Linked DNA regions of Homo sapiens. The protein of the gene in region 1 purifies or fractionates together with the protein of each later gene. This does not show direct contact. Each region holds a gene or a part of one and is shown on either strand. Other genes may lie near its edges.

The links. Proteins that work in one complex are often made in the same cells at the same time.
Region 2: the proteins of LRRC47 (region 1) and ARHGAP19 fractionate together in Homo sapiens (co-fractionation; one large-scale study listed by BioGRID). This does not show direct contact.

What each region holds. Positions count from the first base shown.
Region 1 is NC_000001.11:3,786,499-3,789,998, forward strand, and holds part of LRRC47 (leucine-rich repeat-containing protein 47), read right to left. Parts: intron 813-3,500; coding exon 351-812; intron 1-350.
Region 2 is NC_000010.11:97,282,638-97,286,137, forward strand, and holds part of ARHGAP19 (rho GTPase-activating protein 19), read right to left. Parts: intron 1-3,500. UniProt on the Homo sapiens protein: GTPase activator for the Rho-type GTPases by converting them to an inactive GDP-bound state.

The DNA.
Region 1 (3,500 bases):
AAAAAAAAAATCAGGATAAACCGTTAACACCATATGTGGAGGAGCAAGGGATACGACCAGTGACCAGGACCAACCAGGCCAGGGTGCAGGCGTCTGTGAAGAGGCCATCTCCACGCTGGAGACACCTGCCTCCCGGAGGGGACTGAGGCCTTACCCCCTCCTCAGCAACACCTGAGCCAGAACCTGCTCTATTCCCTTTTTGGAGCTGAGGAAACTGAAGCACACAGACACCCGGCTGGGCCCCATACTCCACTGCTGCTCCTTCGGACACGCTGGCCTCAGGATGTGTCCCAGCTTGCGGCGTCTCACACCTCTGTCCCAGTCATCTGAGGACCCCCACGGGCACCCACCTGCGAGGTGAGGAAGCGCTTGAGTGCATTCCCTGGCTGCAGGTCCATGCCTCGCACCACGGCCCCCACAATGTAGGGCCGCACATCCCGGACCTCGGGGCTCACTCTGACTGTCAGAGGTACGGGGTTTTCAGAGACGTGCAGGACCCTGAGCAGCAGCCGGCCGGCATCTCCCACGTCCTGCTCCTCCCCATCACCACCTTCCCGCCTCTGCTTCCTCTCCCTCCTCTTCCTCCGGCTCTCTTCCTTCTCCGAGCCCTCGGCACGGCCCTTGCCCTTCCCGCCACCACGGCCTCCGACGCGCAGGTACTCCAGGATGGATCTGGTCTGGCAGCCGCTGACCATCTTCTCCAGGCGCTTGTCCCTCAGCTTGTTCCCACGGAAATTGATCTCCTTGAGCTTGGGGCAGTCCGCAAGCTCTGCAGGGATCTCGCTCAGCTGGTTGTTCGAGAGGTCCAACGTCTGCAAAGAGAAACATGGACGCGTCAGACGCCCGGACTCTGGGAAGAGAGTCCAAGGTCATGCTCGAGAGGCAGGGAGACCACTCATCACTCACAAGAGCCACCACTGGCCTGTCTGTGGGGACGCGTCCCTGGGGAGCCACAAGTCATTCACCTTTGAGTCACTTCCCCAGCTCTGCACCCCACATCAAAGGCACTATCCGAGGAGCCTCTCCGAGGAGAAGGCGTCAGCCACGGTTAACAGTGATCTCTGCAAAAGCTTCTGACTCAAACATGTCACCCTCTTTAACAACCACAGCAGCCCTGCAGCTCAATCATCACGTTAGAGAACAGAAAGGTGACAAGAGACAGGGGATGTCTGGGTGTGAAACGTGACCTCATGTCGGGACCTAGCCAGGACTGCTCAGGTGAGAAGCAGGTTCCCCAAAGTGGTGTTATTTTTTTTAATTAAATGAGCTAAAAAAAAAATACAGCAAAATCTCTAAGAGCATTCTTCTTCATAATGAAGTGCAAAGTTGCCCGCAGTGACACACAGAGTGCTCTCAGGGTTCACGCAGGAAGGAAAGGGGAAAGCCGACTTCAACGGCGATGGGTTCTCAGCCTTCGTCTGACCCAGGACAGGTGCATCGGGCCCACCACCGTGTGCCACAAAGATGCCCAGGAAGCCCCGTGGCCCACGGGAAAGCGTTTTCTATGACCGTGACTGATCAGACTTTGGCAAAACGTGCAGGTGACCTCACTGAAAGGATGGAAGGGGTACAGTGGCACCTGATGCACTCTTAGGATGTCTTTCCCAGGGTCTGGGCAGCGCAGGGAACGTGCGTGTGAGGGCAGCCACTTCCATGACGTGAGGCGGCCGCTGCAGGTTCAGGCAAAAGGGGCCCATCCGCCTCCACTCTGCTCTTTCCTGGCTTGGTACCCAGGCCCCACAGCCTTGCCTGGGTGGTGGGGCAGGCACTGCGAGCAAACCCTTCTGTCCCAGCTTCCTCTAGGGCTGGAGGAAGACCCTGCTCAGGATGCAAAGCCTGACCCTCGGGGATCTCTGGCAGCCTCGGTGCCGGCTCTGCCCCCAGAGAGGAGGCAACAGCATGTGGGCCCCCTGGAAGCCAGCACTCGCCCTTGGTCAGTGTGGCTGGTGAGTCCTAGTTACACTGGGTGTGGAGGAGACAGGTAGGGCTGGACTTGATAGACTCTGAACAGAGTTGGGGATGGGCTGATTACTCAGAGGACACCTCCTGCTTCGCCTGGAATGGATGGCAGGGGTGATGGAATTTCTCAAGCCCCAAGTTGTGAAGGAAATGAAAAAAGGAACCTGCTGGAATCCTCCGGCTCAAGCAATCAAGCTGCTCAGACACGGGTAAGGGCAGCATGGCTCAGAAATGGGATGGCGCTCAGAAGCGGGAAGGGTGGCACGGCTCAGACATGGGAGGGTGCACTGGATGAGTTCCCTCAGGGAGAACAGAGACCCAGGGAGGAAGCGACAACTTAACAGTCAAGCAGGAACAGCATGTGTAAAAGAAATAAAAGGGCTCGCGTGCCCTCTGGGAGAGAATGGGGCAGTCTAAGCAGCAGTGACGCCTGCTGGGGAAGAACACAAGGCAGGGGCTGAGACCAAGCCCAGCTGCTGGGCACTACCTGAGCCACGCGTCCATCGGATCTAACAGAACTGCCACAATTCTGTGCTTCTCAGCACAGGGTGGGCTGGGCTGGGATAGACTTGTTGGACTGGTGGCTCCAGCCCAGACCTCCCTTCCGGCCCCACATGGGACGAGAGCCAATCTACTCCTGGAATCCAGGTGGCCTCACAAAGTACCAGGAGCCGTATCACCAATGCTGTCGCCAGCCTGCAGCACCAGGAACAGTGCGGCCGTGAGCTCAGCCTTCTAGAGCTCCTCACCTCCCTGTCAGAGCCCTGGCTCCAGCGTTAGAACCAGCCTGGGCCACCAGCCCAGGGCACAGCCTGCCTGGCAGAGGCCAAGGGAAGCTCTGAGGTTGGAAGCTCGGGGGCACAGGCATCTGAGGTTCTGCTCTGTGGGTTTCTGCGCTGCCCTAAGGGGCTTTGGTCAAAAAGCTTGAGAGTTCCCCTCAAGTGGAACCTCCTTTCTGCCTGCAAACACGCAGTGCGGCGTCTCCCTCCGCTGACAAAGAGCAAGTTCCTTCAGACCCAGGAGCAGCAGCAGAGGCGAAGGAGGCGGGCGGGGCCCCACCGGGGCGCCCAGAGCAGCCACAGCCAGTTCAGCCTGCAGCCTGCAGTGAGTCCCCGAAAGGATGATGGCGGGCACTCGGAGAAGGGTCTTCCTTCCAGGCAAAGACTGTCAGAGAAAGGGCATCTGAGCAGCTCAGGACCTGCCTGGAGGCTCTGTGGGGAGTCAGGGGACAGGAAGGGAAGCGGGGGAAGGAGAGCAAGAGGGAGGGCAAGAGAGTCACCATCTGGGTGGGGCGCAAAGCCGCACATGTTGGGGAGTCCTTGTCAGAAATGCAAGGCCCTGCTGACGAGGTCGCACGCTGGCCCCTCAGGCCAGCACTGGGCACCCAGTGGCGGCCTCAGCAGGAAATGAAGCCAGAGATTTCACACATGAAGGGTGGATGAGGGTGGCGTCAGTTTTCACTTGTGTGAGGGAGCAAGCAGGCGCGCCCGCAAGGATGTGAGGTGCACACTGGCTTTGGGGAGGATGAGTTACACAGGGGG
Region 2 (3,500 bases), on another chromosome or scaffold:
CATCTCCAGCAAGGTCTGGAACTCTGCCCTAGGGACCCTCTTCCTTGTACATTCTAACTCAGCTGATTCCTGTATCTATTTCTATATTTCTTAGAGATCTCTTTACTTCTTACTAGCCAATTCCTTGTTACTCGAATCCCCAGTTATAGTTTATAACCTATTAAATGTTCTCTGTTTAAAGTACTATGTAGTTTCTTTTTTCTTTTTTTTTTTTTTTTTTTTGAGACAGAGTCTCACTCTGGTCGCCCAGGCTGGAGTGCAGTGGTGCGATCTCGGCTTACTGCAACCTCCACCTCCCAGGTTCAAGCGATTCTCCTGCCCCAGCCTCCCAAGTAGCTGGGATTACAGGCGTCTGCCACCACGCCTGGCTAATTTTTGTATTTTTAGTAGAGACGGGGTTTCACCATATTGGCCAGGCTGGTCTTGAACTCCTGACCTCAGGCAATCCACCCACCTCAGCCTCCCAAAGTGCTGGGATTACAGGCGTGAGCCACCCGCCCGGCTGTTACTATGTAGTTTCTATGGCCTAGCTGAATTTAGTTTATATCGGGTAACAGTAGCAAAACATCAGCACAAAATAAATAGGCTCCAGCATCTGTAGAAACAACCCACCCTAAAAGATGGTTAGTAAAAGTGTAGGTGAGAGTGTTCACTGAAGGTGACCAGAGGGCATCTTCAGGAGGCTGAGGTGGGTGGATCATGAGGTCAAGAGTTCGAGACCAACCTGGCCAACATGGTGATACCCCGTCTCTACTAAAAATACAAAAATTAGCCAGCATGGTGGCGCATGCCTGTAGTCCCAGCTACTCGGGAGGCCGAGGCAGGAGAACTGCTTGAACCCAGGAGACGGAGGCTGCAGCAAGCTGAGATCATGCCACTGCACTCCGGCCTGGGCAACAGAGTGAGACTCTGTCTCAAAAAAAAAAAAAATTGTATTTCAATCACTCTTTTGCTATACTGTTTCCAACCAGAAATGATGCACTTATTGGGAGGAAACTGGGAAACCAAGATAGAAATCAGATCTTGGATGGGTCATATTTTAGATAAGAGGCATTACAGTTTAAGACTCAGAAGGAACCAGACATGGTGGCTCACACCTGTAATCCCAGCACTTTGGGTTGCCAAGGTGGGAGGAGTACATGAGCCCAAGAGTTTGAGACCGCCTAGACAACATAGTGAAACTTCATCTCTATTAAAAAAAAAAAAAAAAAAACTGTCTCAATATTAATAATGGTTGTATCTATCTGGTAAATTGGAGTGGCTAGTTTACCATTTTTCTACATATTTTTCTTTCCTTTTTTTTTCTTTTTTTTAGAGACAGGGTCTCACTCTGGCACCCAGGCTGGAGCACAGTGGTGTCATCATAGCTCACTGCAGCCTTAAGCTCCTAGGTTCAAGCAATCTTCCCACCTCATCCTCCCCAGTAGCTGGGACTACAGGTGCACACCACCACACCTAGCTTTTTTCTCTTATTTTTATTTGTATTTTTTGCTTTTTGTTTTTGAGACATTGTCTCACTCTGTTGCCCAAGCTGGAGTACAGTGGTGCAATCTTGGCTCACTGCAACTTCTGCCTCCCAGGTTCAAGCGATTCTCTTGCCTCAGCCTCTTAAGTAGCTGGGATTACAGATGTGCGACACCATGCCCAGCTAATTTTTGTCTTTTTAGTAGAGACAGGGTTTCACCATGTTGGCCAGGCTGGTCTCGAACTACTGACCTCAAGTGTTCTGCCCACCTTGGCCTCCCAAAGTGCTGGGATTATAGGCGTGAGACACTCAGACCAGCCCCCATTTTTTTCTACATATTTTTCTAGCCTTCTGTAGTAAATATTATATAAGTTTATTTCATAGTGGGGAAGAGGGGAAAAAAGTATATACTGGGGGTTTTTTGAGGCAAGGTCTTGTTCTATTGCCCATGCTAGAATGGTGGCATACTCACGGTTCAGTGCATCCTTGACCTCCCAGGCTCAAGCAATCCTCCTGCCTCGGCCTTCCTAGCAGCTGAGACCAGAGGCATGTGCCACCACGCCTGGCTAACTATTTTTATTTTTAGTAGAGACAATGTCTTGCTAGGTTGCCCAGGCTGGTCTCAAACTCCTGGGCTCAAGTGATCCTACCACCTCAGCCTCCCAAAGTGGTAGGATTACAGATGAGAGCCACCACTTTTAGCCAAACTATATACTCTTAACAAAAAAGAAAGAAAGAAAAAAAAGCATATACTTTTTTTTTTTTTTTTTTTTTCCTGTGAGACTGAGTCTCGCTGTGTCGCCCAGGCTGGAGTGCAATGGTGTGATCTTAGCTCACCACAACCTCCGCCTCCCAGGTTCAAGCGATTCTCCTACCTCAGCCTCCCAAGTAGCTGCGATTACAGGTGCATGCCACTGCACCCAGCTAATTTTTTGTATTTTTAGTAGAGACGGGGTTTCACCATGCTGGCCAGGCTGGTCTTAAACTCCTGACCTCAGGTGATCCGCCCGCCTCCGCCTCCCAAAGTGCTGGGATTACAGGCATGAGACACTGTGCAAGGCCGAAAGTATATACTCTTAAAGCTTCAATGGATTTGTAGGTTGTAGATGTTCCATATAAAAAATGGCTGGACACAGAACAATGCGAATGTAGTTAACATTAATTAACTACACACTTAATAGGTAAGATGATAAACTGTTATGTTTTTTAATACAATTTTTTAAAACAAATTTATTTTTATTTATTTTTTTTAACAACAGGGTCTCAGTCACCCAGGCCAGAGTGTAGTGGCGGCATTCTAGCTTATTGCAGCCTCAAACTCTTGAGCTCAAGTGATCCTCCTGCTTCAGCCTCCCAAGTAGCTGGGACTGCGGGTATGTGCCACCATACCTAGATAATTTTCTCTTTTTTTTTTTGCTTTTTTTTTTTTTTTTTTGAGACAGAGTCTCTCCCTCTGTTGCCCAGGCTGGAGTATAGTGGCACAATCTCGGCTCACTGCAACCTCCAGCTCCCAGGTTCAAGCAATTATCCTGCCTCAGCCTCCCTAGTAGCTGGGATTATAGGCAACCGCCACACACCCAGCTAATTTTATATTTTTAGTAGAGACAGGGTTTCACCATGTTGGCCAGGCTAGTCTCGAACTCCTGACCTCAAGTGATCTGCCCGCCTCGGCCTCCCAAAGTGCTGCGATTACAGGCGTGAGCCACCATGCTTGGCCTAAGCCAAATGTAATGTTTACAGCAAAAAGTTTACAGATTTCCTATATCACTCTTTATAACACTACCGACCCAATTGTTCTGACCAAAGTAAACTTGTGCAACAATATCTGCTTTGCTTTATGCTGTGGTTTCATGCCACTTACCAGTTTATGCAGATTAATTTTAAAATTCTGTTTTCTTCCTTCCCCTCCTTCCAAGACAGGCCTTATTTACAAATATGATCAAACTCTCTAAACCTGATCATTGATAAAATGTAAAATAAAACCAGATTCAAGAAAATCCCCTGAAGAAATCTACTCCTCATTACCCTTCAGATA